4 linked regions of the Homo sapiens genome follow. The protein of the gene in region 3 interacts with the protein of the main gene of each other region in a pairwise test. Each region holds a gene or a part of one and is shown on either strand. Other genes may lie near its edges.

Evidence for each region.
Region 1: the proteins of ZBTB8A (region 3) and GPATCH2L interact in binary tests that used the Homo sapiens proteins (3 or more experiments, as listed by UniProt).
Region 2: the proteins of ZBTB8A (region 3) and ZNF276 interact in binary tests that used the Homo sapiens proteins (3 or more experiments, as listed by UniProt).
Region 4: the proteins of ZBTB8A (region 3) and BAZ2B interact in binary tests that used the Homo sapiens proteins (3 or more experiments, as listed by UniProt).

The regions. Positions count from the first base shown.
Region 1 is NC_000014.9:76,210,387-76,216,083, reverse strand, and holds the end of GPATCH2L (G patch domain-containing protein 2-like), read right to left. Parts: 3' UTR 1,741-5,697; downstream 1-1,740.
Region 2 is NC_000016.10:89,716,194-89,725,145, reverse strand, and holds the start of ZNF276 (zinc finger protein 276), read right to left. Parts: upstream 3,610-8,952; 5' UTR 3,506-3,609; coding exon 3,301-3,505; intron 2,616-3,300; coding exon 2,312-2,615; intron 2,010-2,311; coding exon 1,963-2,009; intron 1,887-1,962; coding exon 1,437-1,886; intron 1-1,436. Other genes in the region: VPS9D1 (VPS9 domain-containing protein 1), read left to right, coding at 4,285-4,383, 6,044-6,119, 8,324-8,416, 8,522-8,684. UniProt on the Homo sapiens protein: May be involved in transcriptional regulation.
Region 3 is NC_000001.11:32,596,652-32,605,426, reverse strand, and holds part of ZBTB8A (zinc finger and BTB domain-containing protein 8A), read right to left. Parts: intron 5,341-8,775; coding exon 5,008-5,340; 3' UTR 1-5,007. UniProt on the Homo sapiens protein: May be involved in transcriptional regulation.
Region 4 is NC_000002.12:159,318,690-159,327,464, reverse strand, and holds the end of BAZ2B (bromodomain adjacent to zinc finger domain protein 2B), read left to right. Parts: intron 1-1,546; coding exon 1,547-1,812; intron 1,813-2,510; coding exon 2,511-2,654; intron 2,655-7,046; coding exon 7,047-7,200; 3' UTR 7,201-8,486; downstream 8,487-8,775. UniProt on the Homo sapiens protein: Regulatory subunit of the ATP-dependent BRF-1 and BRF-5 ISWI chromatin remodeling complexes, which form ordered nucleosome arrays on chromatin and facilitate access to DNA during DNA-templated processes such as DNA replication, transcription, and repair.

The sequences.
Region 1 (5,697 bases), on a different chromosome or scaffold from region 3:
CCTTGAGCAGGCCCTGCTTTACCTCCTGCATCCATCTCAGTCAGCACAACAGAGGCTCAGGGTAATCAGGGCTTACCCTGATCTTCAAGGTAAAAGATGGCTTTTGTCTTACTTGCTTTCCCAGGTTTAAGCTTTCATGTCATTTTTTTTAATTTTTATTTTATTTTTTTAATTATACTTTAAGTTTTAGGGTACATGTGCACATTGTGCAGGTTACATATGTATACATGTGCCATGCTGGTGCGCTGCACCCACTAACTCGTCATCTAGCATTAGGTATATCTCCCGATGCCATCCCTCCCCCCTCCCCCCACCCCACCACAGTCCCCAGAGTGTGATATTCCCCTTCCTGTGTCCATGTGTTCTCATTGTTCAATTCCCACCTATGAGTGAGAATATGTGGTGTTTGGTTTTTTGTTCTTGCGATAGTTTACTGAGAATGATGATTTCCAATTTCATCCATGTCCCTACAAAGGACATGAACTCCTCATTTTTTATGGCTGCATAGTATTCCATGGTGTATATGTGCCACATTTTCTTAATCCAGTCTATCATTGTTGGACATTTGGGTTGGTTCCAAGTCTTTGCTATTGTGAATAATGCCGCAATAAACATACGTGTGTATGTGTCTTTATAGCAGCATGATTTATAGTCATTTGGGTATATACCCAGTAATGGGATGGCTGGGTCAAATGGTATTTCTAGTTCTAGATCCCTGAGGAATCGCCACACTGACTTCCATAATGGTTGAACTAGTTTACAGTCCCACCAACAGTGTAAAAGTGTTCCTATTTCTCCACATCTTCTCCAGCACCTGTTGTTTCCTGACTTTTTAATGATTGCCATTCTAACTGGTGTGAGATGGTATCTCATTGTGGTTTTGATTTGCATTTCTCTGATGGCCAGTGATGATGAGCATTTTTTCATGTGTTTTTTGGCTGCATAAATGTCTGTCATTTTTTACTTCTATAGATTTTTTTCATTTCTTATTATTATTCTGGGTGTTTAGAAATAATTTTTGGTTTTTTTGTTTGTTTTTCTAGAGGAGCAATGATAAAACTAACTTCAAAAGTAAAAGAATTCTGTACGGATGCTCAGTACCTGGGTAACAGGTCATTCATACCCCAAACCTCAGCATCACGCAATATACCCAGGTAACAAACCTGCACATGCACCCCTCAAATCTAAAATAAAAGTTGAAAAAGAGAAAAAAAAACCTTTCCCATGCATTTCATGGTTTTAGGGCTTAGATTATACTAAGCTAAGAAGATAAAACTGACTGACCTTTGGCTGCAAAACAAAAAGAGTTTGTTACTGACTGCTATGGTATAAATGTTTGTGTCCCCCGAAAACAGGTGGAAATCCTAACCCCCAAAGTGTTGGCATTGAAGACAGGGCCTTTGGGAGGTCACTAGATTAGGAGGGTGGAGCCCTAGTGATTGGGATTTATGCCCTTATAAAAGAGACCCCAGAGAGCTAACTAGTTCCCTTCACCATGTGAGGACACAATTAGAAGGTGCCATCTATGAACCTGAAGGCAAGCTCTCACCAGACATTGAATCAGCCAGCACCCTGATCTTGGACTTCCCAGACTGTGAAACCATAAGAAATAAATTTCTGTTGTTTATTTTTTTAAAAAAATTAGGTAAGGTAGCAAGATATATTAGCATACAAAATCAGTAGCTTTTATATAGAGAGCAATAACCAGTTAGAAGACATAATGGCAGAGGAAATCTCATTTACTAGCAAATAAATTAAATACTTAGGGATAAGCTTAGCAAGAAATGCACAAAACCTACACAAGGATAATTTTAAAACACTGCTAAAAGGCACAAAATAGACTTGAATAAATGGAAATACATCTCCTATTCTTGGATAGGATGACACCACATTTTAAAGATGTTAGTTCTCTCTAAATCAGTTAATATCATATAATATCAATAAAATACCAATGTACCTTAAAAAATGAATTTAGACAAGTTGATACTAAAGTTCACATGGAAAAACAAACATGTATGAATAGCCAGAAGCACAATAGGAAAAATTATAAGGGGGACTAGCCTTGCCAGTTGTTAAAACATACTATAAAGTCTCTATAATTAAAACAGTGTGGTACCATGCACAAGTAGACCAGTGGAACAGAAAACCCAGAAAGACCCAAGTACATATGGATCCTGGATTGAATACCGAACCAGAAAAACAACATTACTGGGAAAACAGCTACAATTCAAATAAAGTATGTAGTTAATAGGATTGTGCCAATGTTAATTTCCTAGTTTCAATAATTGTACCATTGGTATGTAAGTTAACATTAGAAGAAGCTGAGAGAAGGGCACACAGGAAATCTATTTTTGCAGATTTTCTGTTAAGTCTAAAATTATTTTTTTTAAAAAAGGTTTTGGATCAAGAGCCCCTGAGAATGTGAAGAGGGGGCTCTGTGTCAGGCTAACATGGAACACCAGAGGGAATAAATCGCCACTGCTCACATTCCCTGAGCTGGCCTCACTTTATCTCTGGCTGGTGAGCTTTTGCTTGGATTCTATAAAATACACGTCTTTACAATAAATTCCATTCCATGCTTTAAAATGTAAAATAAAAAATTGGTGTTACAAAAAGTTTCTGTTAATTCTCCAAATGCATTTCTTTGTTTTCATTGGGTCTTTAAAAGTATTTAGTCTGTCATGCTAATTGAAATACTTACTTCATTTCTTCTATGACAATTGTTATATTAGATTTCTTTTGATGTCATTTTTTGGCAAACTATACCTTCCTGGAAAATTATCCATTTAATCCAAGTTTTTAAATTGTTTGCATACAGTTGAGCAAAGAATATTTTATGACTCTTACCTATTCAATACTTGGTAATTCTTATTTTGTGTTTGTCTTCTCTTGTAATGTTAGCTAAAATGTTACATATTTTACTACATATTTTAAAAATTAGCTTTGTTTCCTCATTTTTCTAATTAATTTTTCTTGATTCTTTTAGCCTGCCTTTAAAAGATTCCTTTTCCTAATATTTTGAGTTATATGACATTTATCTTATTTTTTAATACATAAATTTTAGGGCAATGAATTTTCCTCTGAGCACTGTTTTATTTGTATCTCAGAGGAACAAGTTTATATTTTAGATATGAAATGTTTTTTTAATACTTTGCATTTCCTAATCAACCCAAGAATAGTTGAAGAGCTTAAAAACATTTTGGATTGCAGATGAGCAGTGTTTTCTGGCTTTAATTTATTGCATTTTTTTTTCTGACCACCTATCCTCAAATTCTAAGTTTATTGCATTTTTATCAGCAAATGCCATCTGTTGTTCCTTTTTTCCGTTCTGAAACTTATGTTTTCTGTACGCTCTAATACACAGTCAAATGGGGAAATGTTTCATGGATACTTTGAAGTGTAGTTACCACTTTTAGGGTAAAGTCTAATATGCATCAACTAGATCTTCTGTATCTTATTTAAATCATCCCATGTCCTAGTTTTTTATCCACTTGATCTGTCATGAATTGACAGAATTGAATTAAAATATCCAACTAACATTGTATTTGTTTCTTCCTGTGTCTCCTATGGTTTCCAATACATAAATGGTTTTCCATTATTTGGTACACAGATATCTAGAAACATTATCTCGTGAGTCACACCCTTTAGCATTATGTCGTGGTTTTTTTTGGTTTTTTTTTTTCCGGTTCCTTTTCCCTAAGTTCAACCTTGCCTGATATGCAGACTACAACTCATTTTCTTGTTTGTGTTTGCTTGGTTTACTTTTGCTCAACCTTTCTGAATCTTATAACATGAAATTAGTGTTTGCTGACATTTTTGCCTTTTATCTACAGATAAGTTTACTTTTATTAATATGACAGGTACATTTGTTCCTATTCTATGGTTTTAGACATCTTTCATTTTTGTGATTTGTTTGGTTGTGCATACATGTTTTTTCTCATAATTAGCAGTCTGAATTTTTCTTCTAGTGATAATCTCTTTAATCATATTTTCATATGATCCCCATAATCCTCTATTTCACTAGTCAATATACCTTAATTCTCTACTATGAGCAATGAAAAATTAGTAATTTACCTGTCCTCCCTATACTATTTTAATAATGGAACATAAGTCACTTTCTTATTTCTATGTACAAAAGCTAGACTGCATCGCCTAATTTAAAATGCTGGTCAGTCAGAAGCTGTTCAGGAAAAATGTTGGCCCAAAACTCATAATTATTTCACTTTTATGCAGTTTCAAAAGATTTAGCTAACTTTATTTATAGCACGGTATTAATGAGACCAAAATCATGGGATCAGAACTTAGTGTGAGCCAGCAGATTGGTTTTATCCCATGGGCACTTCCTGTAGGCTTAAAATATCAATGATTGCTAAGGTGTTCAGTCCAAAAGGTGTAAATAGATCAACACAAATTTATTGTCACTACTGAGAAACAAAGCCCAAAAAACTTAACTGGTAGTTGAACAACTTTGACACTGAAGAACAGTACAAGGAACTAAGACCATCACATTGTGCATTAAACTCTACTAAGTCGGTGGTTCAAGGGGAATAACCTCAGACTGGTATCATGCTAGAACATGTAATGGAATCAGTCAGCCATGATTCCAAATACACCATTACTTCCAATTCAGTTTAACCTAGTTTTAACATGTCAGTAGCTCCTACCAATAAGTGGGCCTAGCTATATTTCCCACGGAAGGTGATCAAGGCAATGCAAATCTGTTCACATCTCAGTTCCAGCTTTGTATGCACAATGGGCCAGTTGCAGTAGGGTTTCCACGAATGCACCCTGAGCTTAGCAGAGGAATACGGCAATAGTTCTCCAACTCAACAAGTAAGCCAGTATACACAGGACCCTTCACTTCCTGGCTCTTGCCTTTCTCTCTTTGTTCCTCTGTAAGCTTTACATGTGGGCCATACTAAAACACTTGCAGTGCTCTGAATAAACCATGCTTTTACCCTTGGAGGGCTTCATCCACTCTTCTTAACTCCTGCTTATCCTTCAGGATTTCTTTCAATGTTTTTTTTTACTTCTTCCACTGCCCAGTTTGAGTTAAAGTGCCCTCCTCCTTGCTGCCAAAATACCCTGTCATTCTTATTTCATTCTACATTGTAATACTTTTTTTCTGGTCTCTTCCGCAGAAGACCATGAACATCATGAGAGCAGGAATGCCTTTCTTCTCTGTATACCCAGCTCCTAGCAGAGTGCTTGGCATAAGATGTGTTCCATACACATCTAATGAATGAAGGGGCATTTCTAAAAGCCAAGACTGTTAAGGCAGCTTTTGCTAACAGTCAAAAGAAATGTTTACCAAGGTGTTGAAAACAGTCTATCACTAACATTAACATCTCAGAACACATATCCCCCTCACTTAGGAATCAGTTGTGCCTTGGTACAGAAAGGATAATACCTTCTTATTGCCACAGGTTTGCAAGATCTGCAAAATTTCATTGACTTTTCTCTTGCTCTGGTCACTCTCAAGAACAAAACTAGGTTGTTATAAGAGGATGTCACAGAAACCGGCTATCTCCTTTCAATCATGTACGCACAGAGAAGGGATGAGCCCATTCACAGTTGCCTGGTAGAGAAACAGCCCACCAGGACAAACAAGTCAATAAAGAGGTCTCATCAGACACTGGCCCATGGCCCAGTGGCCCACAGCTTATGCATATGTACATGCCCTCCAACAGTTCAGTT
Region 2 (8,952 bases), on a different chromosome or scaffold from region 3:
GTCAGGAGTTCGAGACCAAGCCTGGCCCACATGGTGAAACCCCATCTCTACTAAAAATACAAAAATTAGGTGGGCGTGGTGGCATGTGCCTGTCATCCCAGCTACTCGGGAGGCTGAGGTAGCGGTGAGCCAAGATGGCACCACCGCACTCCAGCCTGGGCTACAAAACGAGACTCTGTCTCAAAAATAAATAAACACATAGATAGATAGATAAGTAGGTAAATAAATAGATAAATAGGTAGATAAGTAGATACATAGATATACAGATAGGTAGGTAGATAGAGAGAGACAAAGAAGTAGGAAGATAGATAGGTAGGTAGGTAGATAGATACACAGATAGATAGAATTGTTCTCAACACACTGCATACAAGTTTACAGAGCCAAGCAGCTCTAAGATGTGACACTCACAATCCCGTTCCTACCTGAGGCCCCCGAGCCGCACTGTCTCATCTGTGCACCCGTATCTAGCTAAACTATCTGGGTAGCTGTGTTTCTGTTTGGGACAGAGTCTTGCTCTGTCACCCAGGCTGGAGTACGGTTGTGCGATGTCGGCTCACTGCAACTTCCGCCTCCCAGGCTGAAGTGATTCTCGTGCCTCAGCCTCCAGAGTAGCTGGGATTACAGATGCCCACCACCATACCTGGCTAGTTTTTGTATTTTTATTAGCGATGGGGTTTCGCTATGTTGGCCAGGTTGGTCTTGATCTCGTGACCTCAAGTGATCCACCCACCTCAGCCTCCCAAAGTGCTGGGATTACAGGTAGCTACGCTTTTCGGAAGCTCCCCTCAAGACTCAAAGTGGGAACTGAGTGCTCAGGTGGGGACAGGTGCACAGAGCACACACAGGACAAGAGGCCGGAGGGAAACTGGCCCTGGCCCTCCTAAAACAACATCCAGGAGCAGCTGCACCAGCCCACAGTGCTATGGGTTCTGGGGCCCAAACAAGGGCCTTGTGTTTCCCCTCAGCCTGTCAGCAGAGAAAGCTGCGCCACACTGGCCCACACCAGGGTGTCACCAGGCGGCTGGCTGAGTGCCAGGAAATGACCTGCAGCTGGCCCAGGGCAGCAGCCGCAGAGGCAACGGCCATTCTTTTCTCCCACATCCACAGACAAGGCCCTATTCTTCCCTCTTCCTCAGTCCCCTCAGCCCCAAGCACAGGCTTAGAAAAAGACTCGACGGCTGATGAGCGTGTCTCCACAGAAACTGCTGGAACAGAGCCCTGCTCACAGAGGAGCAAGAGGCGGAGACAGGCTGGCCGCCCCTCCCTGCTCTCTGGATGTGGTGAGCAGCCGCAGGCAGAAGCCCCAAGCTCTGCTCCTTCTCACACCACACCCCAGCCACCACCTAGAGCAGTGGAGACATTCACTTTCTGCTGAAAACCCTGCCCCACTGAGGAGCACACATCCTGGTCTAGCACCAGCAAGAGGTGCCTCCTACCTGGGGCCCTGCAAAGGGGCAGGCTTGGCTGAGGTGGGAAGCCCGACCTGGGCCCCACCGCGTCGCTGTCCGAAGGAGGCTGGGCCACATCCGTGCTGGGCAGGGTCTTGGTCTCAGCCCCAACTGGGGTCCCTGTCCCTCTACCCTGGGAGGTCTGAGGGGCATCCCCAGGGTTCCACCCTCGGTGCTGGGGCAGCCGTGGCGCCGTCTCTTTGTCCCATGGCCACTTGACTGCCAGCGCACTGTCCAGCAAGAAGGCCTTGCAGCTGGAGCTGGTATCCATGGTGTAGTCGTGGCCCTGGTCGCAGCCCCACACGACCTGGATGACGCCGCAGTACTCGGAGGACAGTGTCCTCTGAAGGTGGGGCAGGGCCCCGCAGCTGGCCGCATGTCCATGCACCCACCCCACCAAGCCGTGCAGGCACTGGGGGCTGGATGTGATCAGATCCACTGCAGAGAGTCAACAGAGATGTCAGATCCACGGCTGGTCGGCACCCAGCCCACCCTCCACCGGGGGAGGACTCACCCAGACACGCTCCCTCCTCTGCCCCTGTTGGGGGCTGGGCACCGACCCTGCAAAGGATCAGTGTGGCCATGAGCAGGACAAGCAGGCGGAGGTTCACAGCGCTCGTCGTACGGGACCCTCTCGAGATCTCAAACCTCAGCGGTCCCCATAGGCAACTTTCTCTTCCCTCACCCCAGCTCCTCCCAGTTCATCTCTCCACAACAGTCCCAGGGCTGTTGGCACTGAACCCGGGCATGGCCCATTCCCCCCACCCAGAGGCTCCCGCGGAGGCACGCCCTGTCCCTCTCTCAACACCCGTCACACTGCAGTACTGACAGCCTGAACGTGCTCTGAACAGACTAGGGCGTACTTTGCACAAGGCTTCCGGCGACCAGCCGGGGAGGCGTTGACCCTCTGCAGGAAGGACTTGAGAAGGCTGTGGCACTGGTAGAACTGGGCGTGGCAGCTCTTGCAGACAAACGGAGACAAGGTGGGGTCCTGGCGGACAGCCACACCAAGCAGGCGCTGGAAGTCCCGTACGAGCACGCGCTCCTCTGCGGATGGCCTCTCCATGCTCGCTCCAGGCGCCCTCTCGGAGATGCTGCGCAGGCTTCTCGAGGAAAACTTCCCGTGGCAGAGGCGACAGTGACCCATGGCGAGAGCCCGGCCTGCTCCTGCACAGAGCGGCAGGAAGTGTTAGCAGCTGGCAAAGGAGGCTCCTGAGCACAGGGCGTCCCGGACTCCAGGTCCGAGGGCAGCGCCTGCAGCGCCCTTCGCGCGGCTCCCGGACACAGCAAGCGGCTCGGGCGCGCGGCTCTCGGCGGGACAAGCCGCCCTGTGGGGGATGTGGCCGCTGGTCCAAGAAATCTTTCAAATTTCAAAGGCCTCTAAGGCCTCTCCAGCGAAGCAACTTCAAGAGTGAAACCTGGAACTGCACCCTCCTCCCAGCGACCGCGAGACCCGGGGCAGGCGCTGCGCCCTCCAGGAAACGCCGCGGTTTCCTGTCTGCCAATTGCAGGTGCCGCCTCCTTTCCGGCTCCGCGAGGGCACGAAGCAGGGGAGGGCGATTCCCACGCGCGGGCACCCCAGGGCGACCTGCCCGCGGTGACAGCGCTCCTCACGCCGGGTCCCTTCTGGCCGAGCCCGCGGCCGGGGAGGCCGGGCCGGCGACGCCGGCGTCACGGAGCGCGAGGAAAACCGAGCCGGCCGCCCAGCGCCTATCCCGACGCAGCCCCGAGTCCGCTACGCCCTTGGCCGGGTGGAGGAGAGGCCGCGCCGGCTTCCGGGCGTCAGTGCGGCTCCTCCCACGAGCAACCCCTGCCGCGACCCCAACCCGCCACGCCCGGGCCGCGGACCCACCTGCCTCGTCCGCGCCGTCCTCGCCCGCGTCCCCGCAGGACCCCACCGGGCCCCAGGCGCGCCGCGCCGTCGCCCCGTCCACCCTCGGCCCACCGCTAAGGGAAGGGCGGCCCCGAGTCCGGCTGACGCCGCCGCCGCCGTCCGAGGCCCCGCACTGTCGGGACGACCCAGGAGACAGGAAGCGGCCCAGCCGGTCCCGCTTCATGGCAGCGGAGGACGCCAGCAGAATCCCGCGGGTGCTGCCCGGCCCGAGGTTCCTAGAGGACCCGGCGTTAGGCTCCGCTCGGCGCGCTGGAAGCGAGGCGGGGCGGGGGAGGGGCGGAGCGAGAAGCAAAGCGAGGCGGGCGGGGCGGGCCAGGGGCCAGGGGCGGGACCCCGCCGGCCGAGGTTCCACCCGCGGTGCCAGCGCCCCCGCTCGTACCGCTCCCCTCTCGGGCCCGAGGGCGGCCGTGCCCGCCTCTGTCGCCAATGGAGCGCTGGCCTGGGGCGGGGCGGTGGGCGGAGGGGCTCGCCGACACCTCACGACGAGTCCTCCAGGGAGAGGCGACGCGGCCCTCACCGCCTCTTACCGTGGGAGACGGAGGCGCGGGGCGGGCAGGCGCCGGCGGAGGCCACGCGGCGCGCAGGTGGCGGGCGGGCTGCAGAAAGGGGAGGGGGGCCGGGGTCTCACGTAGAGAGGGGCCTGGCTGCCGCGGTTAGACGCCCATGGCAACTCCGTGAGGGGCCCTTCTCGCCAGCCCCGTCTCAAGACGGCGAAGAGGCCCGGCTCCGTCGCGACAACCCACCCGGACTCTGCCGCCCCCGCCACTAACACCCGTGGGGCCCGCAGTACGCGCGGAGGGGGCCCGTCGCCGGAAGTGCGGCCGCGTCCCTTCCTGCGGTCCGCTGCTCGGGCGGCTCCAGCACCAGCGCCGGCTGCGTTCCGGGCCTCCGGTCGCCCGTCCAGCCCCTCGGCTACCGCCGCCGCCTCCCCCGCTCGGCGCCATGGCCGCTGCGGCCGGGGACGGCACGGTGAAGCCGCTGCAGAGCGCCATGAAGCTTGCCAACGGGGCCATCGAGCTGGACACCGGCAACCGGCCCCGGGTGAGGCGGGGCGGGGGCGGGGCTTGGCCGCTGAGGGTGGCCCCTGGAGGGACCCCCGCCCGGGGAGGGCGAGGACGGGGCCGGCTCGGGCTGGAGACTTGGGAGCGGGCGCCAGCCGGGATCCCGGGCCGCGGTTCCCGGGCGAGGACGGGGGCGGGGCGCAGCCGGGCGTGCAGTGACCTTGGACAGCTCAGATCCTGCGGACCTTGGCTTTCCACTCCGCTCGCTGAGCCGGTGCATCACAGCCTGGGCTCCACCTGTAGAGGAGATGTAGCAGGAGGGTCCGCCAGGCCACCTTCCAAAATCCGAGTGACGGGCAGGTCCGTGCGTTCGTGCATTTTTCTGGGCAGAGATGGTAGATTTAATCCGGTTGCCACAGGGGACGGCATGCAGAGAAGGCCACATACCTGCTCATTTGTGATGCTGTTTGCAGTCGTCTTAGGAAGGAAAAGCAGGCCGGAGGGGTGTGGCCCGTTCCTGAGATGGGGCCGAATCTAAGGTTGGCGACCAGGTAGAGAAGCTGGCCCAGCCACACCCGGCTGCCCAAGGAGGGAAGGAGCCTGCCTGTGCCTAGGAGAAGCCTCGTTCCTGAATCTGCTGCTTTCCCCAAGTTGGTTTTTAGGGCAGCAGGTGCCCCCGCAAGTCAGAAATCCTGCCTGGATTATATTTCGTCTTTCTCTCTGAGGCATAGACTTAAAGATAGGAAACTTAACAGCTAGGGATAAAACAAAAAAACATAGCATATTGCTGGGCGCTGTGGTTCACGCCTGTAATCCTGACACTTTGGGAGGCCCAGGCGGTGGATCACCTGAGGTGAGGAGTTTGAGACCAGCCTGGCCAACGTGGTGAAACCCCGTCTCTACTAAAAATACAAAAATTAGCTGGGTGTGGCGGTGCACACCTGTAATCCTAGCTCCTTGGGAGGCTGAGGGATGAGAATCACTTGAACCCAGGAGGCGGAGGTTGCAGTGACTCGAGATCCTGCCACTGCACTCCAGCCTGGGCGACAGAGTGAGACTCTGTCTCAACAAAACAAAACAAACCACCATTCTGTGGTTCCAATGACCTGTGCCTTGTCAGAGGGGTCACACAGCCTTGAAAGGTAACAGTTCTAGGCTCCTGTGTGCACTGGAAATACGTAACTCGCAGGTTCTGGGAAAGGGATTTCTCGGAACTTAAACCGGGAAGTGATTTGAAAACTTCCAGTATCACTCCCTTTATCCTCTCAGAAAAGTATTTTTTTAAGCCACTGAATGAATCACCCTTGAGTTGCACAAGAAGGAAACATTGCATAGAATGAAAAATGACAGCAAACTGCTGAGGTCACTTCCCCAGGCCCACTGAATGAGAATATCAGTTCCTGTGCTGGAGAGAAAGGCAGTCAGAGGAGAAAATGAGGTCCAGCTCGTCCCTGGCTCTCTCTCTCTCTCAGGTCCTGATGTCTTTTCCAAGTCTGGAGAGCAGCGATGCTGCCTGTGCCCTGCGCAGAAAACCGTGTTCCGGCTGCAGCTAACCACCGCAGGCTCAATGTCTCTGGGTGTATCTCAGAGATAAGCAGGTGGTGGTGTTCCTTGCTTATCCCACAAGGGCACCTGGCCGGAATAATGGAGTCACTTCCCTCCACTGGCCTGACCCCACTCTTTCTCTTTCCTGGACACAGGAGGCATACACGGAATACCTGAGGAGCATCCACTATATCTCCCAGGTGTTACTAGAAGAAGTGGAAACCACTAAAGGTACGGCTCAGCCAGCCGGGCGCGGTGGCTCACGCCTGTAATCCCAGCACTGTGGGAGGCAGAGGCGGGCTATCACCTGAGGTCAGGAGATCGAAACCATCCTGGCTAACATGGTGAAACCCCGTCTCTACTAAAAATCTAAAAAATCAGCTGGGCCTGGTGGCGGGTGTCTGTAGTCCCAGCTACTCGGGAGGCTGAGGCAGGAGAATTGCTTGAACCCGGGAGCAGAGGTTGCAGTGAGCCGAGATCACCCCATTGTACTCCAGCCTGGAACAAGAGCGAAACTCCGTCTCAAAAAAAAAAAAAAGAAAAGAAAAAGAAAAAGGCATGGCTGAGCCCTGCTGCTTCCTCCATGCTGGACAAATTGTGGGCATCCTAGCCCTTGATGGGTGCCAGGCTTCGGCGGGGGTCTCTTGTATCCTTCTAGCCTGACCATTTGTAGTAGGTGGACCAGCCCACACTCAGTGTGATATAGTGGCAGGAAGGGACCAGCGTTGTGGATAAGAAGATGGAGACTGGGGTGTGGCAAGACACTGGCTCCAGTGAGCGGCACAGACGTGGGGCAGCATTCCAGCTGTGGGGTGTGCAAAGGCCCTGAAATAGGAGTGGGCGGGGTGGGGCTGTGTGCATGCCTTGGGTGGAACTGGGGCCGTTCTGGTGTGCAGGGAAACTTGAAGAGACTTTGAGCTTTGAGGGAGAGGACAGCCTGGGAGTGGAGCCTCAGGTGAGGACTGAGGATGGCAGTGGCCAGACCACCCAGGATGGGAGCAGTAAACGGCCTCGGGGTGCGTCCTGAAGGTGGAACAGAGCAGACTTGCAGGAGGCAGATGGGGCAGGAGCAAACTGGCAAGGAGAGGAATAGCAAGTTCCGCAATGAACACATTAAGTTTGAGAGGCCAGCAGCCGCTGCACAAAGGATCACAGAGGTCAGGGGGAGCCACTGGACATAGAGCACAGAGGTCAGGGGGAGCCACTGGACGTGGGATCACAGAGGTCAGGGGGACCCACTGGACGTGGGAGCACAGAGGTCGGGGGAGCCACTGGACGTGGGAGCACAGAGGTCGGGGGAGCCACTGGACGTGGGAGCACAGAGGTCGGGGGAGCCACTGGACGTGGGATCACAGAGGTCGGGGGAGCCCCTGGACGTGGGATCACAGAGGTCGGGGCAGCCACTGGACGTAGGATCACACAGGTCAGGGGGAGCTAACAGTTGCCCCAGCTCCCTAGGGAGCCGGTGAGCTCGGCTGAGCTCTGGCGCTCCAAGATTGAGGAGTTGGGTGGAGGAGTGGCAGAGGATCCCCTGGGGAGAGCAAAGTCCCAGAAGACAGAGGAACTCCAGTGGCCCACCGTGTCTGGCAAGGTGGGGACGGGTAAGGGCAGTTTCCGGGGGGAGTCGGGGGCTAAATCGGGGCGGGATGAGAAAATGGGAGTCTATGAGAAGTTTTCTGTGAAGGGCAGCAGGGAGGTGGGTCAGGCGCTGGGGCGGTGGGTCCAGGGGCGAGTCACAGAGAGGCAGCTCCCACGGCGCGCAGAAGGGCTGTGTGAGCAGGTCCATGGTCGCGCAGAGGTGCTCCATGCCAAGCTACGGGAAGGCAGGACTTTGGGGACACAGCCGGTGGGAGATGGGTGAGGCGATCCCCTCAGCACGTCCTTGTCTCTGTAAAACGGCCACTTCCCAGAGGCCTGCAGTTGCAAGTGAAGCTGAGTGAGCACTAAAGGCCTGTTTAGGGTCGAGGCTGTGACGGGCCTCGATGAGGGGCCCACAGCCTTAGCAGACTCAGGAGGCAAAACCAGGGCAGATGATTAGAAATGCGTGGGTGGGGGGACTTGCCTGGGGTCCATGGTGGGGGCAGGGGCCTTGCCTGGGGTCCATGAGGAATAGTCGGCTTGCCCGGGGTCAGTGGGGGGTGGAAGGGGCAGTGGGCTTACCCGGGGTGAGGGGATGGGGGGGCAGTGGGCTTGCCTAGGGTCAGTCAGTTGGGGGACGGGAGGGGCAGTGGGCTTACCCGGGGTGAGGGGATGGGGGGGCAGTGGGCTTGCCCAGGGTCAGTGAGGGGATGGGGGGGCAGTGGGCTTGCCCGGGGTCAGTGGGGGTGCTGAGGGGGGCAGTGGGCTTGCCTGCCTTTTCCGTTGCCTCATTTTATCTCAGCAGTAAGTAACAGTGGTAGAGCCGACTGTGACCAGCCTTCTTGTCCCTCCCCCAGAAGCTGGGGAAACTGTGCCCCCCGACACCTCCAAGATGCTGAAGCTAGCACAGCAGTGTCTGGAGAGGGCCCAGTCGACGGCCGCCAAGCTTGGTGGGTCTCCTGCAGTAGGCGGCTCTCCTGGGGCATCCCCCAAGCCCGCATCTCCTCTGTGGGATGTGGCCCACCGCTTGACCCCTGGTTACCCATGGCTTGCAGGGAAAACACGCCTGAAGCCAACCATGCCTGCAGCTGCTCCCATTCCCCAGCCTGCCGGCCGACACCGCCGTGTATACTCCGATGAAGGAGGAAAGCTCTCTCCTTTTCTGCCACCCGAGATCTTCCAGAAGCTTCAGGGGGCAGAGTCACAAAGCTGTAAGAAGTAAGATGGACAAGATGGGAGGTGGGATGAGCCTGGGATTGGGTTTTTGAGGCTGAGAAAGATGAGCTGATGACAGCGATTTTTTTTTTGTTTTTTGAGACAGAGTCTCACTCTGTCACCCAGGCTGGAGTGCAGCGGCTCAATCTTGGCTCACGGCAACCTCCACCTCCCGGGTTCACACCATTCTTCTGCCTCAGCCTCCCAAGTAGCTGAGACTACAGGCGCCCACCACCACACCCAGCTAATTTTTTGTATTTTTAGTAGAGAC
Region 3 (8,775 bases):
TGACCCTGAGGTTTTTTTACTGTTCTGTGCCTCAATTTATTTACCGTTCATGTGGGATAACTGTCCTATTTCATATATATGTAAAGAATAACAAAAATTATTAAACACTTTGCAAATATAAAATGCTATATAAATGATAAATAGTAATACTGATACACTTATATAAAATAACAAAACTTTCTGGTTTATAATCTAAAGTTTGGTCCTCCTGTACCTATTATTCTATTATTATCACCCTTCCCAGTTAAACACATCTTTTTTTTTTTTTTTTTTTTTTTTGATGGAGTCTCGCTCTGTCACCCAGGCTGGAGTGCAGTGGTGCGATCTCGGCCACTGCAACCTCCACCTCCCGGGTTCAAGCGATTCTCCTGCCTCAGCCTCCCGAGTACCTGGGATTACAGGCACCCACCATCATGCCCAGCTATTTTTTGTATTTTTACTAGAGACGGGGTTTCACCATGTTGGCCAGGATGGTCTCGAACACCTGGCCTTAAGTGATCCGCCCGCCTCGGCCTCCCAAAGTGCTAGGATTACAGGCATGAGCCACCGTGCCCGGCCAGTTAAACACACCTTATCCTACACTGCTTTTAGTGATTTTCCATACTTATTAATTTTAGGACTAAAAAAAATTTTAAAAACCAATATGAGTGGAAATTTCAATATATCTTGGCATGACTTGGCAAAATAACTTTAATGAATTGAGTTCTGAGCTCATAAATAATTGAAGCACCAAACTTCTTTCATCCATTAGGCAGTACTTAGCCGTACAGAAAACAGTAACTATGCTTATTTTGATTGCATTACTGAAAATATAATATTGAAACATTTGTTCCTAAATTTTAAAAAGTCTTAAGATCTGATACCCATAGAAGGAACATCATGTGCTAAGGATGTGATTTGCTTCACTAAGAGACCATATGGTTACCTGCTTATAAGCACCGTGAGTAACAGGAGTAACGAAATGAGGCTGCAAGGCTCAAAGGGAATTCAGGAAGTTGTCTAATTCCATGGTTTTCAACATTGTGCACCTGAGTTCTGCAGAGGTGTCTGGGGAAAGGTTTGTGGGGGACTTTAACCACAGCAGCTCTGATTTTAGAGTTTATCCCTTAAATTTGAGCATCTTTAGGAAACAATTCATTTGAAGAGTTTCTCGGGTTAAATTATTTTAAACTGCAGGTCTAGTCCATTTTGTTTCTCCCAGACACTAGGCATGACTGCAGTGGTGCTTTCTTTTTGTAATGCTTCATCCTATACCCAGACACTCTTGAGGGTAATGGAGTTAGAAGGGCATTCAGAAGCTGATAAATGGCATTCCTGCAAGAGCAAACTTTGGTCTAACCAAGTCTTGATATTAAAAAAAAAATCCTTGGCATAAATAAAGCTTATTTAAACAGATTATACCCCTATGTAACATTTGCCCACATGTAAAAACCAAAGAATTCAATTTTCTCAATCATCAATAGACAGTTTCACTCTAGAAAATAACTGGTCTCTAACGTCTTAGATATATATGCTATAACTGGAGTCATTATTTACAACTTACAAACATGTCTTAAATGTTCTTCTATGATGTTAAAATGATACAACAGATTCTTTGTCTAGTTTGGTGAACTTGATCATTTTGTGGGGATAGTTTGATGCTCGTTATAAACAATTATGAGAAAGCATTATTTCTGAAAAGGCAATTACAAGTGCTGGTGGCACTGTGTTCAGTGAATGTTGGATATTCATGCTGATGTATGTAAAGTTTGCATGCAGAAGATAATAGCATAAAAGGACATTTAGATCATAGACTAAAGTGCATTAGAGTACACACATGCAAGCACTACTTCATTTATAGGAAAAAAGTTCAAATCAGCCATTTTTCCTACTGGCTCCAACAACTAAAAAATCAGGTTTTAATTTCAAAAGGTGTCAGTATTAATTGGGTAAGACTAGAGAATGACAAGCGTTTCCTTCCTCATTCAGATACACTTTAATTGTTAAGAATCCTGATTTAGGCCGGGCGTGCTGGCTCACGCCTGTAATCCCAGCACTTTGGGAGGCTGAGGCGGGCAGATCACGAGGTCAGGAGTTCGAGACCAGCCTGGCCAACATAGCGAAACCCTGTCTCTACTAAAAATACAAAAATTAGCCAGGCATGGTGGCACATGCCTGTAGTCCCGGCTACTCAGGAGGCTGAGGCAGGAGAATCGCTTGAACCCGGGAGGCAGAGGTTGTGGTGAGCGAGATCACGCCACTGCACTCCAGCTTGGACAACAGAGCGAGAGTCCATCTCAAAAAAACCAGAATCCTGATTTAGGAACAGCCATGTTGGGAGAACAGAGAACTCAATGCACATCATCCAGTCTTGAAGCAACTGCAAATGTGCCATCAGGGGAATCTTGAAAAAGTCTCAATTAAGTACCATGAAACAAGTGGTTATTCATCTATTTTTAAATTTTTTAAAAGAAAGTAACCAATTTAGCCTAGAAATTGGTATCAAGGACAATAATTAATGAAAGAACAAGAGAAAATAGTAACATAAAAAGGATAATTTTGAGGTATGTCATGGCATTTAAAAATACAGTAAAATTGGCTGGGCGCAGTGGCTCACGCCTGTAATCCCAGCACTTTGGGAGGCCGAGGGGGGCGGATCACGAGATCAGGAGATTGAGACCATCCTGGCTAACACGGTGAAACCCCATCTCTATTAAAAATACAAAAAATTAGCTGGGAGTGGTGGTGGGCGCCTGTAAGTCCCAGCTACTCGGGAGGCTGAGGCAGGAGAATGGCGAGAACCCGGGAGGTGGAGCTTGCAGTGAGCTGAGATTGCACCACTGCACTCCAGCCTGGGCGACAGAGCGAGACTCCGTCTCGAAAAAAAAACAAAAACAAAAAAGAAAACAGTAAAATAGATGGAGCCTCTCCATATACAGTGAAATTCTATCAAGCTTCACTGTGATAACTTGCAGAAGAGACCTTTATGAAGCTCAGTTCTTTACTTCGGATATTTAGATTTTACCTTTAGAACTGAAACAATGCTTCTCTAATTTAGCTGTAATTTTGGAATGTTTCATAATTTATGCAGGGGAGAAGTTTTTTTTTTTTTTTTTTTTGAGACGGAGTTTCGCTCTTGTTGCCCAGGCTGGAGTGCAATGGCGCAACCTCAGCCCACCGCAGCCTCTGCCTCCTGGGTTCAAGCTATCCTCCTGCCTCAGCCTTCTGAGTAGCTGGGATTACAGGCATGCACCACCACGCCCGGCTAATTTTGTATTTTTAGTAGAGACGGGGTTTCTCCATGTTGGTCAGGCTGGTCTCAAACTCCCGACCTCGGTGATCCACCTGCCTCAGCCTCCCAAAGTGCTGGGATTACAGGCGTGAGCCACTGGGCCCAGCCCAAAGGGGAGAAGTTTAAACTTTGTATACTAGGAGAAAAGTTTGTTTTGAAAATATTATATAAACAAGAGAAGCAAAAATGTTCAACATATTTAAGTGAATAATTTGTTCAAATAGTTTTATACTTTAAATTTACATATAAATAACGTGACATAAAAACATACCAATAGGTACTGTAGGGACATTACTTAGCATTATTTGAAAATCTCTAGATCAAGATATTGTATGTTGTTGAAAATGATTCAATTCCTCCTTTCATACTTTCTAATTCTGATTGGCTTATTTTTATAATGACTGCCAACTGGTGAGGTTTGACTTCTATTCTTTGCCATTTCAGGAGACATACAGGGAGAGAAGGCTGAAAGAGGATTGTTTAAAATCAGATCCTGTCCAATCATCAGTTTTCTCTCTCAGACTTTCTGACCTTAATTTCCTCATTTGTAAATCGGAGATAGTATCCACCTCACTGAGAAAATACATGAGAGAGTACTTTATAAATAATATAGCACTACATAAACGTTAGAAATCACTCACATATGGTAAGAACCTCCTAGTTTGTTTTCCTTTTTTTTTTGAGACGGAGTTTCGCTCTTGTTGCCCAGGCTGGAGTGCAATGGTGTGATCTCGGCTCACTGCAACTTCTGCCTTCCAGGTTCAATCGATTCTCCTGCCTCAGCCTCCCGAGTAGCTGGGATTATAGGCACCCGCCACCATGCCCGGCTAATTTTGTATTTTTTAGTAGAGACGAGGTTTCACCATGTTGGCCAGGCTGGTTTCAAACTCCTGACCTTGTGATCCGCCTGCCTCGGCCTCCCAAAGTATTGGGATTATAGGCATGAGCCACAGCGCCCAGCCTGCTTTTCTTTAGAGAGATGGACAACCATATTGACAGATTGTCTTCACAAACTACCTTGACTTTTAGGCAACATTAGTTTCCTGCTTTAAGAAAATATCTGTATATAATCTTTGGCCAGCCTCTACTTTTTTTTTTTTTTAACAATACTGAGAGTAATTTTTAAGCTAATGATAAAAATTTCAAATATGAATGATTTCAAACACTTTAGTCTTCTTCCATAATCCTTAAACGTTCAGGATATCAGAGTAATGACAGGTTGTTTCAGATCTCAAATTAATAGAAAGACTAATTTGTTTAGTAAGGTGGGTTGCCAGATCCTTAAATGTGCTCTTAACTGGTTCCCTGTGAAATTAAACATTGGTAGTTATGTGTTTTTGAAACACCTTGAAATTGTCTTACATAAAGTTTGGTTGTGGTGAATTTATTTAAAGTATTTTCTTTGAAAAAAGTTTGCTAAGTAGATCCTCCAATATTAAAAGAAAAAGGTATCTCTGGAATAAAGTAAGAGGATTGTAATGAAAGTAAGAGGATAATTGTTCATCCATCAAGCCAACTCAAGCTAGTTCTTTCTTTCCAGTGCAGCAACACATTTTAGGGCAACAAAGTTCAGAATGGATACAATGGCCTGTTCAGAAAGCATGCAAGTTATATCAGATCATTTCTTTAAAGTCAGTGTGATAAATTTGTTAACTAGACTCCGACCATAGAAAGAGAGAGATACAGGAAGTCAATGTAAATTGCAGACATGCCAGCTCTGTTGGTTCACATTACAGCTACCTAATGTTGGGCTTAATTTCTTTTTCTTCTTCTTCTTCACTATCATCAACCTGTTGGATGACCAGATCAGCAGACCCATCTTCTACAATCTCCACATAGGATCTATTCTCATCTTCACTCAAGTGCCATCTGGAATCCTTATCTCCATCTGATGGGGACATAAGATGTTGTTCAGCTTCCAAGTCAATGGGGAGGCTGTCTATGCCAAATTCTGCAAGACACTCATTACACAGTCTGTAGCGCCTGGTTCCCTCCTGTACCACTTGCCCTGTTAGATCTGTCACATGACGTTTACATTTTCTGCAGATGAGTTTACATGCCTGGTGAATCTGTGTAGAGATTTAAATAGTGATAAAAGTGATTTTTCAAAAGCAGGACAGTTTGATATTTTAGGTACCAGTTCATAAACTTAAGATGTTCAAAGCCATGCATTAAACTCAAATTAACATCTATTATTTAGAGAAAGATCAAGGGTTTTAGTGGTGAATTGATGTCACAGAAATATTAAACATCAGCTTTCTCTAAATAGTGGCTATCATGTTTTTTATTATTAATATGACATAATAATTTCACCTATCCCTTAATCCAATAGCATTTGGTATCTGAGGTAACTTCCTATGATAATAATAATTGCAAACACTATGTGCCATGTACTTATTTAATTATTTTTATTATTTATTTATTTATTTATTTATTTTTGAGACAGAGTCTCACTCTGTTGCCCAGGCTGGAGTGCAATAGTGCAATCTCGGCTCACTGCAACCTCCGCCTCCGGGGTTCATGCAATTCTCCTGCCTCAGCCTCCTGAGTAGCTGGTATTACAGGCACGTGCCACCACGCCCAGCTAATTTTTGTATTTTTAGTAGAGATGGGGTTTCACCATGTTGGTCAGGCTGGTCTCAAACTCCTGACCTCGTCATCTGTCTGCCTCGGCCGCCCAAAGTGCTGGGATTATAGGTGTGAGGCACCGCGCCCAGCATACTTTTTATTTTTAAAATAGGGTCTCGCTCTGTCACCCAGGCTACGGTGTAGTGGTGACCATGGCTCACTGCAGCCTCAGCCTCCCAGGCTCAAGCAATCCTCCCATCCCAACCTACCGAGGAGCTGGGACTACAGGTGCATGCCACCACACCTGGCTAATTAAAAAAAAATTTTTTATAGAGAAAGGGTCTCACTATGTTTTCCAGGCTGAACATATCTTAATTTGAGGTGGGGGCGGGGGGTGCAATCTCTCTTGTTTTGTGTATTAATTTTTTGTTATTTTACTAGAGAAAGAAAAATATTGCATAAATTTAAATTTATTAATATTTTAGATAGAAGGAGAACTTGCCATTTTTATTAATAAAAGATCTGGTGGAAAGAGGACCACAGGGATTGGAAGGGTTGGGGTTCTAGTTATTTACTATCTTCTTGGAGCAAGTAATTTAAAACATTATATAAACCTGCTTTAGGGTGACAGTTAAAATATTTAACTGGTAAGATATGGGCACCACCCAGACTGATGAGAAGCCTGACTAATTCTACTGGACATTCATCATAAACAACTACGATGGTGCTGCTTCTATATATCAGCCTAGTATTATCTTTGCTTGCTTCCTTTGGCTAATGGAAATATCACTCACAGGGTTAATGTGAGGACCAAATGAGTTAACATGTGTGAAATGCTTTGGTAAACAGTTGTAGTGAGGAATAATTACGTATTATAATTAGTAATAAACAATTTTGTTCAATAGCTGTCAGAACAGTAGATTATGGGTTCTAATCTAAAAATTATAAAAATTAATTGTATAATGTTGAATCAATGTTTATGGAATATTCATTTAAATAAAGTCAGGACAGTGCAGAAGTAGGGCACCAAACACAGTAAAAAACTCCAAGAAGCTGGGCACTGTGGCTCACACCTGTAATCCCAGCACTTTGGAAGGCTGAGGTGAGTGGATCACTTGAGGTCAGCAGTTTGAGATCAGCCTGGCCAATATGGTAAAACTCCATCTTTACTAAAAAAAAATACAAAACTTAGCTGGGCATGGTGGCACACGCCTGTAATCCCAGCTACACGGGAGGCTGAGGCAGGAGAATCACTTGAGCCCGGGAGGCGGAGGTTGCAGTGAGCTGAGATTGTGCCACTGCACTCCAGCTTAGATGACACAGTGAGACTTCATCTCAAAAAAAAAAAAAAAAAAAAAAAAAAATCCAAGAAAGCTAATACAGTCTGGTAAAATATGTAGGAAAATGTATGGAATTACCACTAGTACAGTTATTATCCTGTGTGTAACTGTTGACATATTAATCAGTAAACATTAAAAGTACATGATTTGAATGAATTCTGATTTCTCCTGAGATAGTAATATTATGCGTATTAGGCTGGGCGTAGTAGCTCACATCTGTAATCCCAGCACTTTGGGAAGTGGAGGTGGGTGGATCACTTGAGGCCAGGAGTTCAAGACCAGCCTGGCCAACATGGTGAAACCCCATCTCTACTAAAAATACAAAAAAAAAAAAAAAAATTAGCCGGATATGTGCTTGTAATCCCAGCTACTCGGGAGGCCAAGGCAGGAGAATCACTTGAACCCAGCAGGTGGAGGTTGTGGTAAGCTGAGATCGTGCCACTGCACTCCAGCCTGGATGACAGAACGAGACTCTGTCTCAAAAAACAAACAAACAAACAAACAAAACTATGGGTATCAAATGTGGTATTGTTTTTGTTACAAGCTCTGATACAGATTCATGTCCATCCCTCCAAAATATGTATCTTCTAACTCTATCCACTGAAATAGTGTAAAAGAAATGACACCTCCGTAACAATGACTGCCCAGACTTTGGGCTCTAATTTCACTTTCCACTAAAGGAAATGGATTGAGAAATGGCTGATTCCAGCTCTGTGGTAGGGAAAGTACAAAGTGAGTCTAGGCCTCTTTTGGAGCCAGAGAACAAGGACACTTTCAAAATTTAATGGAGTTGTGACAAAAGGAGACAAGAGCCAGCATCAAGGTAGAGACTGTTCACTGGATAAAACTAAAAATTTGAGTGTCAAAAGGAATAATAATTGTGGATCCAAACATAATAAACCAATACAATTCCTCAAATTCCTGAGACCATATGATATCTAAAAATATAAGACCAGCAGACGTGGTGGCTCACGCCTGTAATCCCAGTACTTTGGGAGGCCGAGGTGGATGGATCACTTGAGGTCAGGAATTCAAGACCAGCCTGGCCAACATGGTGAAACCCCATCTCTACTAAAAATACAAAAACTAGGTGGGCACCTGTAGTCCCAGCTACTCGGGAGGCTGAGACAGGAGAATTGTTTGAACCTGGGAGGCAGAGGTTGCAGTGGGGCAAGATCACGCCATTACACTCCAGCCTGGGCAACAGAGCGAGACTCTGTCTCAAAAAAAAAAAGAAAAAAGAAAGCAGGTGTAGTGGAGACCTCCTTTGGTTGGACAGCCGCAACTAGACTGAAATCCTACCAGACAAGGATTCAGTAATCACTGGTAGATGCTGAGTATCTACAGTGGTGATTCTGACCTAGACACTTAAAGCATTTATACAGTTTATATTATCTTTGGCTCTGAACAGACCAGTATATAAAAACATATTAGACTAAGTGAATTAAAATGGAAATATAAAACTATTTACCATCAAAAGAATATACCCCACTTCAAGGTCTTGAAGGAGATTAAAAATCAATATACATAATTATGCTTTACGTGCAAAGTAAAAACACTAAGTTGGAAGAATTTTAAATATGGTAGAGTTGTGTG
Region 4 (8,775 bases), on a different chromosome or scaffold from region 3:
GACAGGGGTTGTGATTCTTTGATATCATATGGTGAAAGTGTTGGATTTATGGTTTGCCTTATTTAGTCAATTAAAATATCTCCTTAACTATACTTTAACCTGCCAATAAAGAAACAAATAATTTTAACTGCTTAAGAGCATTTTTAAGTAAGGTACTGGCAGGGGTCATGAAATCCTCAAAGACAATGCTATGAAATACTCCAAAGGACTGTTTTTCAGCCAATTTTAAGAATACAACCAACTTTATTAGCCAGGCATGGTGGCTCACACTCGTAGCCCCAGCTACTCGGGTGGCTGATATGGGAGGATGTCTTGAGCCCAGGAGGTTGAGGCTGCAGTAAGCCATGATTGTACCACTGCACTCCCAGCCTGGGCAACAGAGCGAGACTGCCTCAAAAAAAAAAAAAAAGATTGCAGCCAACTTTAAATTATTGCTACACTGATTATGTGACTTTGCAGTCTAGGATTTCTTAACAATCTGGTTAAGGGAATAGTAGTTTTCTAAAAGTGTTTGGTGTGTACCACATATTTGGAAAATAAAAATAAAAGCCATACGTTGCCAGAAGTTTACATATCTTTCTTTCATGATCTATTATATTTATTATAACATTTAACTCTCAAAAGGCAGATTTTTTTTCTCTATGAATACAGGGTGGGGCACCCTTCTTGTTGCATCAGTGTGCTGCCTGCAATTTGTAGTTATATTGCATAAGACCATGTTGAGAGTTCTTTTTTGCATGTAATTCTAGAGCTAGAATGACTTTAGCAAGTATGTGGCTTGTCATCCTTATTTTTTAAGTGAGAAAACAGGGCCTCACAAATATTTTTGCTTAAAGTTAGTAGCAGAGCCATAGCTGGAATTCATATCCTTCGATTCCAAGTATAATGTCCTTTATGTCATTTCTTTCTATGTTGTTTTTCTCAAAAACAGACATCTTTTTGCCCCATCTTTCACCACTGCTTTGTTCACACCTGGGAACCACAAGTTTGTGGAACTCTCTTCTTATTGCAAATACCTGTTATCTTTTATCCAGGAAAAAAAATCAAATCAATTTCTAGTAGATTTGATCACTTGGACTTCTCTATTTGACACTTCCTTAGCTCTTTTTCATTTTTTGGCCTGGCTTTTTATTACCTCTTCAACTTTCTTATTAACAATCTCTATATTTTCATTTATATTCATCTTTGTTCCTAATTCTGTTGTGCTCCAAAAGAGAATTCTTTTGTATCTTTAAACTCATTCAAGTAGTGACCTAGACTGAAAGAATACTACAGACACCTTCTGTAGATGAATTACCATGAGATTAGCATCTTCAAGTTTTAAGAATTCTTAAGATGAATAGACTTTTCATGTTTTATTAGATTTTATCCTTATATTATGAGAGGAAAAAATACACAGATCTTTCTTAAGAATAATAGTTATCAACATTCTAGATCAGAGTTATTCTTTTTACTTATTTGTCCTGTCAGACTTTCATAATTTAAAATAATAGGTCTGTAGACAGTCACTTTCTTACACCTCATTTACTTTTTTTTTAAATTAAAGGCAAGTGGTCAAACTCTAAAAATCAAAAAACTTCATGTCAAAGGAAAAAAGACTAATGAGTCAAAGAAAGGCAAGAAGGTAACTTTAACAGGAGATACTGAAGATGAAGACTCTGCATCTACAAGTAGTTCACTAAAAAGAGGAAACAAAGACCTCAAGAAAAGAAAAATGGAGGAAAACACTTCTATTAACTTGTCAAAACAAGAAAGTTTTACTTCAGTTAAGAAACCTAAAAGAGATGACTCCAAGGACCTAGCTCTTTGCAGGTATTATTTCCGTTTTCATGCACTGTATATTTATAATGCCCCATTTTATTTGTTTAGAAACCTTTTACCATATTAAAGCTTTCTTTCTGATAATTTATGTAAATAAAAAAATGTAAAGCATAAATGTTAAGAAAATATATAAGTAAAAGTATAGTAAATGTATTCCTTTATCTTCTTTTAATGTTAATTTGCATTGAGTTTTTATTTGAAAGATTATAATTGGGCCTGGCACAGCGGCTCACACCTGAAATCCCAGCACTTTGAGAGGTCAAGACAGGTGGGTCACCTGAGGTCAGGAGTTCAAGACCAGCCTGGCCAACATGGTGAAACCCTGTCTCTACTAAAAATACAAAAATTAGCTGGGTATAGTGGCGTGCACCCATAATCCCAGCTACTCGAGGGGCTGAGGCAGGAGAATCACTTGAACCCGGGAGGCAGGGGTTGTAGTGAGCCGAGATGGTGCCACTGTGCTCCAGTCTGGGCGATAGAGCAAGACCCTATCTCATATATATATATATATATATATATATATATAAAATATATATATATATATATATATAATATATATATATATAATATATATATATATATAATATATATATATATATAATATATATATAATAACTGAAAGCTTTTTTAATTAAAAAATAAGACAGTTGTAAAGTATGGATACTGATTTCAAACATTATTTTCTTTAGTATGATTCTGACTGAAATGGAAACTCATGAGGATGCATGGCCTTTTCTACTTCCTGTAAACTTGAAACTTGTTCCTGGTTATAAGAAAGTTATTAAGAAGCCTATGGATTTTTCCACAATTAGAGAGAAACTAAGTAGTGGACAGTAAGTAAATCATTTCAGTTCACTAAATATTTATTGAATACCTGATATATGCTAGGCATATTTTTAGTGAGCCAAAGATATTTTAATTAACAGCAAGATATAGGCCCTGCCTTTGAGGCAGGTGTGTGTGTGTGTGTGTGTGTGTGTGTGTGTGTGTGTGTGTGTGTGTGTGTGTGTGTGTGTGTATTTGGTTAGAGTAGAATAGTATAGAAGAGAAACCAACTAAAATTATTTAAGAAATTAAAAACCCGTGTAATAAACCTGCTTTTGACATTGAAAGAGCACCACAAACCCAAGCTGAAGGTAAGGAAAAGTATCAGGAGAGCCTCCCAAAGTAAGTAACATATAAGCCGGAATTTGTATTTTGCATCCATGGAGTATCAACCACACGTCATATGGATTTAACAAAAATTGACTCAAATATTGTTAGATTATCACAATGTAGAAATAGAAGATCTTTGGAAGCTTTACATATTAAGAGCTTTAATGTGAGTTATTGGAGAATACCAAAATTCCATTTATTAAATGCGGGAGAGAAAGCTTATTTGCTTTTCTCTACCATATTCTCTTTGCAATCCTATTCCAAGAATAAAGTTACTTACTTTGGGAGGCTTTCCTGATACTCATACAATATATATTTTAATTACATTGTTATTATCCAGTATATTATTTAGTTCTTCCTATACATTCTTTTGGTGAAAATAACTGTTCTCTATGATTTATATTCAATTTAGAAGAGTTAAATAGAACTTATAATGATCAGCATCCCTCACATATATCAACTGATTTACTAGATTGACCAAATGACAAATTTATTTCTTTGGAGGATGAAATAACAGCCGTCCAAAGGTTTATGTCTGTTTTGTTTTATTATTTTTTAATTACAGAAGGGACCTGCCTAAGTTAAGGAAGCGTTTAAATGATTGATTGGTACTGATTGGTTCCAATATGCAAACACTGTTACCTAGATATGGACTAGTTCTTTTGTTTGTTCTTTTTTTTTTTTTTTGAGAGAGTTTCACTTTTGTTGCCCAAGCTGGAGTGCAGTGGTGCATCTCGGCTCACTGCAATCTCTGCCTCCCGGGTTCAAGTGATTCTCCTGCCTCAGCCTCCCAAGTAGCTGGGATTACAGGTGCACGCCACCATGCCTGGCTAATTTTTTGTATTTTTAGTATAAACAGGGTTTCACCATGTTAGCCAGGCTGGTCTCGAACTCCTGACCTCAGGTGATCCGCCCACCTCCACCTCCTAAAGTGCTGGGATTACAGGCGTGAACCACCTCACCCAGCCTCTTTTGTTTGTTCTATCAAAATAGTTGTCTAGGTAGATGGCACAATGAAATTTATAACTAACATGGCCAAGAAAAAGAATTACACATGAAGACTTTACTAGTATTTAAATTAACTCTTGATTTTAACTTCCATGATCTTCCAATTCCTGGATAAAAGATTAACGTAAACCTCAAAATTCCTAAAACAAATAGGCTTAGAAATATTTATAACAAAAAAATGCTACAAAATCATATGGGCCAGGCAAGGTGGCTCACGCCTGTAATCCCAGCACTTTGGGAGGTGGAGGCAGATGGATCACTTAAAGTCAGGAGTTCAAGACCAGCCTGGCCAATATGGTGAAATCTCATCTCTACTAAAAGTACAAAAATTAGCTGGGCATGGTGGTGTATGCCTGTAGTCCCAGCTACTCAGGGATGAGGCACAAGAATCACTTGAAACTGGAGGTGCAGGTTGCAGTGAGTTACCTCGCCACTGCACTCCAGCCTGGGCAACAGAGTGAGATTGTCTCAAAAAAAAAAAAAAAAGCTACAAAATCAGAGCTCCTTTGAAAAATGAGTCCCAGTGAATGGAGGAAGTCACAGGGGAAGAGAAAGAGAGAAGGAAACAGTCTGTGTATTCCTGTTTGTGATGCCAGGTGTGTGGGAAGCAAAATTTCAGTGGATTCAAGCTCCTCGAACTCTCCACTTTGAGTTGTTTGATTAAACCCAAATTAATGAGTTGGAACCAAAACTCACAAACCATATTTCAAATTTTTAAACTAGAAATTTTTAGAATAGAGGGAGGGGCCTACTTACATGAATTTTTCTGAGTTCCATTAGCTGCCCCATCCCATAAAGGAAGGACACACATATGAGTTGTATACTTTTTTCACCTAGAATCTCACCTAGAATTCTCTCCTGGACTCCACTCTCCCTAATGTTAATCATTAACCTTTTCTTAGGGTAAGGAACAAAGGCAGAAGTAGTTCTCAAATCAACTTTAAAATATTTTGTAAAAATCATTCCCACACAGATTGTATGATTCCATTTAGATGAAGTATCTGGAATAGATAAATCCATAGAGACAGATAGAAGATTGGTGGTTGCCAGGTACTGGGAAGAGGGAGGAATGGGGAATAACTGTTTAATGAGTATGATGTTTCCTTTCAGGGTGATGACAGTGTTTTAGAAGTGACGATAATACAGTGTTGTGACTTAAATGCCACTGAACTGTCCACCTTAATATGGTTAATTTTATGTGAATTTCTTAACCTCAGTAAAAATAAGCAAGTAATTCCTAGGAAAATGGATGAGGTTACATAAGGGCTGACTTAACTCTGTGAGCACATTACGCATAGAGAAATATTTCTTTCATTATCGCACAGAAGAAGCGAGTGAAAGGTCATACAAGATATTTCACCAAAGAAATAGAATTCCACTTTGACAAGATCTCACAGCGTCAGTGCCTCATAGGGTATTTCTCTTTTTTTAATTTTTATTTTAATTTTTGCAGGTACACAGTAGGTGTATATATTTATGGACTACATGAGATACAGGCATGCAATGCATAATAATCACATCATGGAAAATTGGGTATTCATCACCTCAAGCATTTATCCTTTGTGTTACAGATAATCCACTTCTACTCTTTTACTTATTTTAAAGTGTACAATTAAACTATGATTGACTATAGTCTCCTTGTTGTGCTGTCACATACTAGGTCTTATTCATTCCTTCTATTTTTTTGTACCCATTAACTATCCCCACCTCCCCACTGCAGTTCCCAGCCTCTGGTAACCATCCTTCTACTCTGTTTCCATGAGCTCAATTGTTTTGATTTTTAGATCCCACAAATAAGTGAGAACACGTGATGTTTGTGTTTCTGTGCCTGGCTTATTTCACTTAATATAATGACCTCCAGTTTGATCCACGTTGTTTCAAATGACAAAATCTCATTCTTTTTTTATGGCTGAATGGTGCGCCATTGTGTTTAAGTACCATGTTTTCTTTATCCATTCGTCTGTTGATGGACACTTAGATTGCTTCCAAACCTTGGCTATTGTGAACAGTGCTGCACCAAACATAGGAGTGCAAATATCTCTTTCATAAACTGATGTCCTTTCTTTTGGGTATATACTCAGCTGTGGGATTGCTGGATCACATGGTAGCTCTGTTTTTAGTTTTTTTGAGGAACCTACAAACTGTTCTCCATAGTGGTTGTACTAATTTACACTCATGAGATATTTTTAATGGTTACATTATTTTAGTATACAGATTGTCATAGGTTAGAATTAACTTAAAATTTGCATTTCTAAAAGCTATCTTTTAAAATGTATTGAACTGGCTTGAGTTGGTTTGAAATGACCATTCCCTTCTTACTAATAAGCTTATGCAGATTCATTCACCTTTCTTTTCTCTTTTCTGTTTTTCTACAGAGAAAGAGAATTGGGCTTATCCCGCCAGAAAAGCACAGAAGCCACAGTGCTTCTTGTTGAAAGACAGACCCTCATAATGTTACCTCTAGTAGAAAGATAGCATATGCTTGTTTTGCTTGTTTGGGTTCATCATACTCTATTGCTTGGGCAGAAGAGCACATATGAAGAGAAGAGAAATGGGAAATGGGGAAGACAACGCAGAGCACCATATCTTGGGGTGTATATAGAAGCTACAGGACAAGTGTAATTTTTATCATTGCATGGGGAGCATTGACATAATTTCTACTGCAGCTGAGCATTTTTTAATATGGATAATAGGATTCTGCAAGTGATACATTTGGTCAGAGAACTTAATAAACTAGTCAAGTGGGATAGGTCCTGTGACAGAATTGTGTGATACAGGTCAAACAGGAGTTGGGTTATGGGGAAAATGCCAGTTGAAATATGTTTTGATCTTTGGAGAAACCTATTTTTTCATTTAACCTGTTCTTTAAATCCAGTATGTTCCAGAACATACAAAAATGTTTAAATGTTCCATTTGTAAGAGGATATCATGTATTTTATATCAATTTAAATGCAGTTATCCTAATCATTTTTCTTTCATTTTTACCCTTTATTAACTCTTCATTTGTTTACAAAACAAATCCACTCTATGAACGCAATCTCTAATTATTTGTTTTCTTTCAGGTATCCAAACCTTGAAACCTTTGCTCTAGATGTCAGGCTTGTTTTTGACAACTGTGAAACATTTAATGAAGATGATTCTGATATAGGCAGAGCTGGCCACAATATGAGGAAGTATTTTGAAAAAAAGTGGACAGATACTTTCAAAGTGAGCTGAAGTTATAATAATCTCTTTATTTTTTTCCTTCTAAACAAGGACAAATGAGACCAGCAATGTGAACTGTATTTACATAAACGTGCAAGGCACATACATAATGACTTTCTTTTTCCTTAAGTATAAAAAAAAAGTATCAGAAGAATGATACCATTTTTAAAGGCTTCATTCCTACAACAACCAAGGCCCTCGGTTATTGGTTTGTGTGATTTATCAGCTAATTTAGGTAGAACAGGGAAGCACACCCAAAGAATTTTCAAAGGAAAGGGTGTTATAGTGCAATAGCAATTAAAATATATCAAATCGCACTGAATACTCAACACCAGAGCTCTAATGTGGGAAATGGTTCTCCTTTCCCTCTCAATAAATATCTATTTTTCATTTTTTTACTTTGTAGTTTATTTTTTAGTGAATGTATTTAATTTTATGAATTATTTATGATTAAACCACATCCAGAATCTTCGTTTTCTGTGAAAAGGAAGAACTAGAAAATTGCTTTAAATCTTGAAAATACAAGGAATGTTTTAAAATATAAAACAAAGCCAAGTTAAACTGTTTACACTGATGTGCTATAAAAGCACCAAAAAGAAACTTTACTGTAGAGTTACAAGTACATTTATATATATATGTTGCTGCATCACTTGTGTAGTTAAATTGTATTTCAAAACAGTGAAAAAATTGACATGTATATACTGTTCATTCTTGTTTATATTAAGTCTTGTTTTAAATATGTATTATGTGTATATATTGTTTGCAGACATTATTGTTCATGCCTTAGAGGATTGTAGCATTTTATTTTCGTCTGAAGGTAATGATAGCTATACAGTCTGTACAGTAATTATCCTCTACCAACACTGTGGCGTCTCCTTAATCTTGGTAGTGCCTGCCTTTGAAACAGGGTGTAGGGGATATTAGTTTTCCATTTTTCTATTTTGTTATATAATTTTAAGCCACCAGGGCCTAAATTAAAGTATAATCATTTGTATCCATGTGGAATAAAATTGTGACAATTTCCTACGCACACAGTATTTTTTCATAGAAACATTTCCCTCCCATTTGCCTTGCCTCAGAAATAAATTTAAAAGACGTTTGTAACCACTGTGTTTTATCTACTGTGTGTTGTGGTGGCCTGTTGGAGGCAAATAGATCAGATTTTTTTTGTACCTACGTAAGAGTACTTGAAGTTTTATTTAAAATAAAATGTTGTGGAAAAGGTAGCATTCTTTTTTTAGGAGTGTTATTTTTCACTATGTGTGGCACGGATACAATAAAAGACTTTTACAAACTAATTTTTTAGTTTTTCTTAATGTACCTGAAAATATATTCTTTTTTAAAAGCCAGTTAATTTAAATTTGATTTTTACAGAGACCTGTAGGAGGAACAGTGTGTAGAGTGTGGTTCAAAGAGCACTGGGCTGGGTGGAAGAGGGTGAGTTTAAGTCAGGTGGCCAAACTTCTGTAGCCTGAAAACCTCTCTGGTCTGCGAACTTCTCCGAACCTTGTCTTCTTTCTTATTTCACATTTTCAAGATGAAAATATTAGAATACATTAGATCTTGTTCTGGTCTGAAAAATGCCTC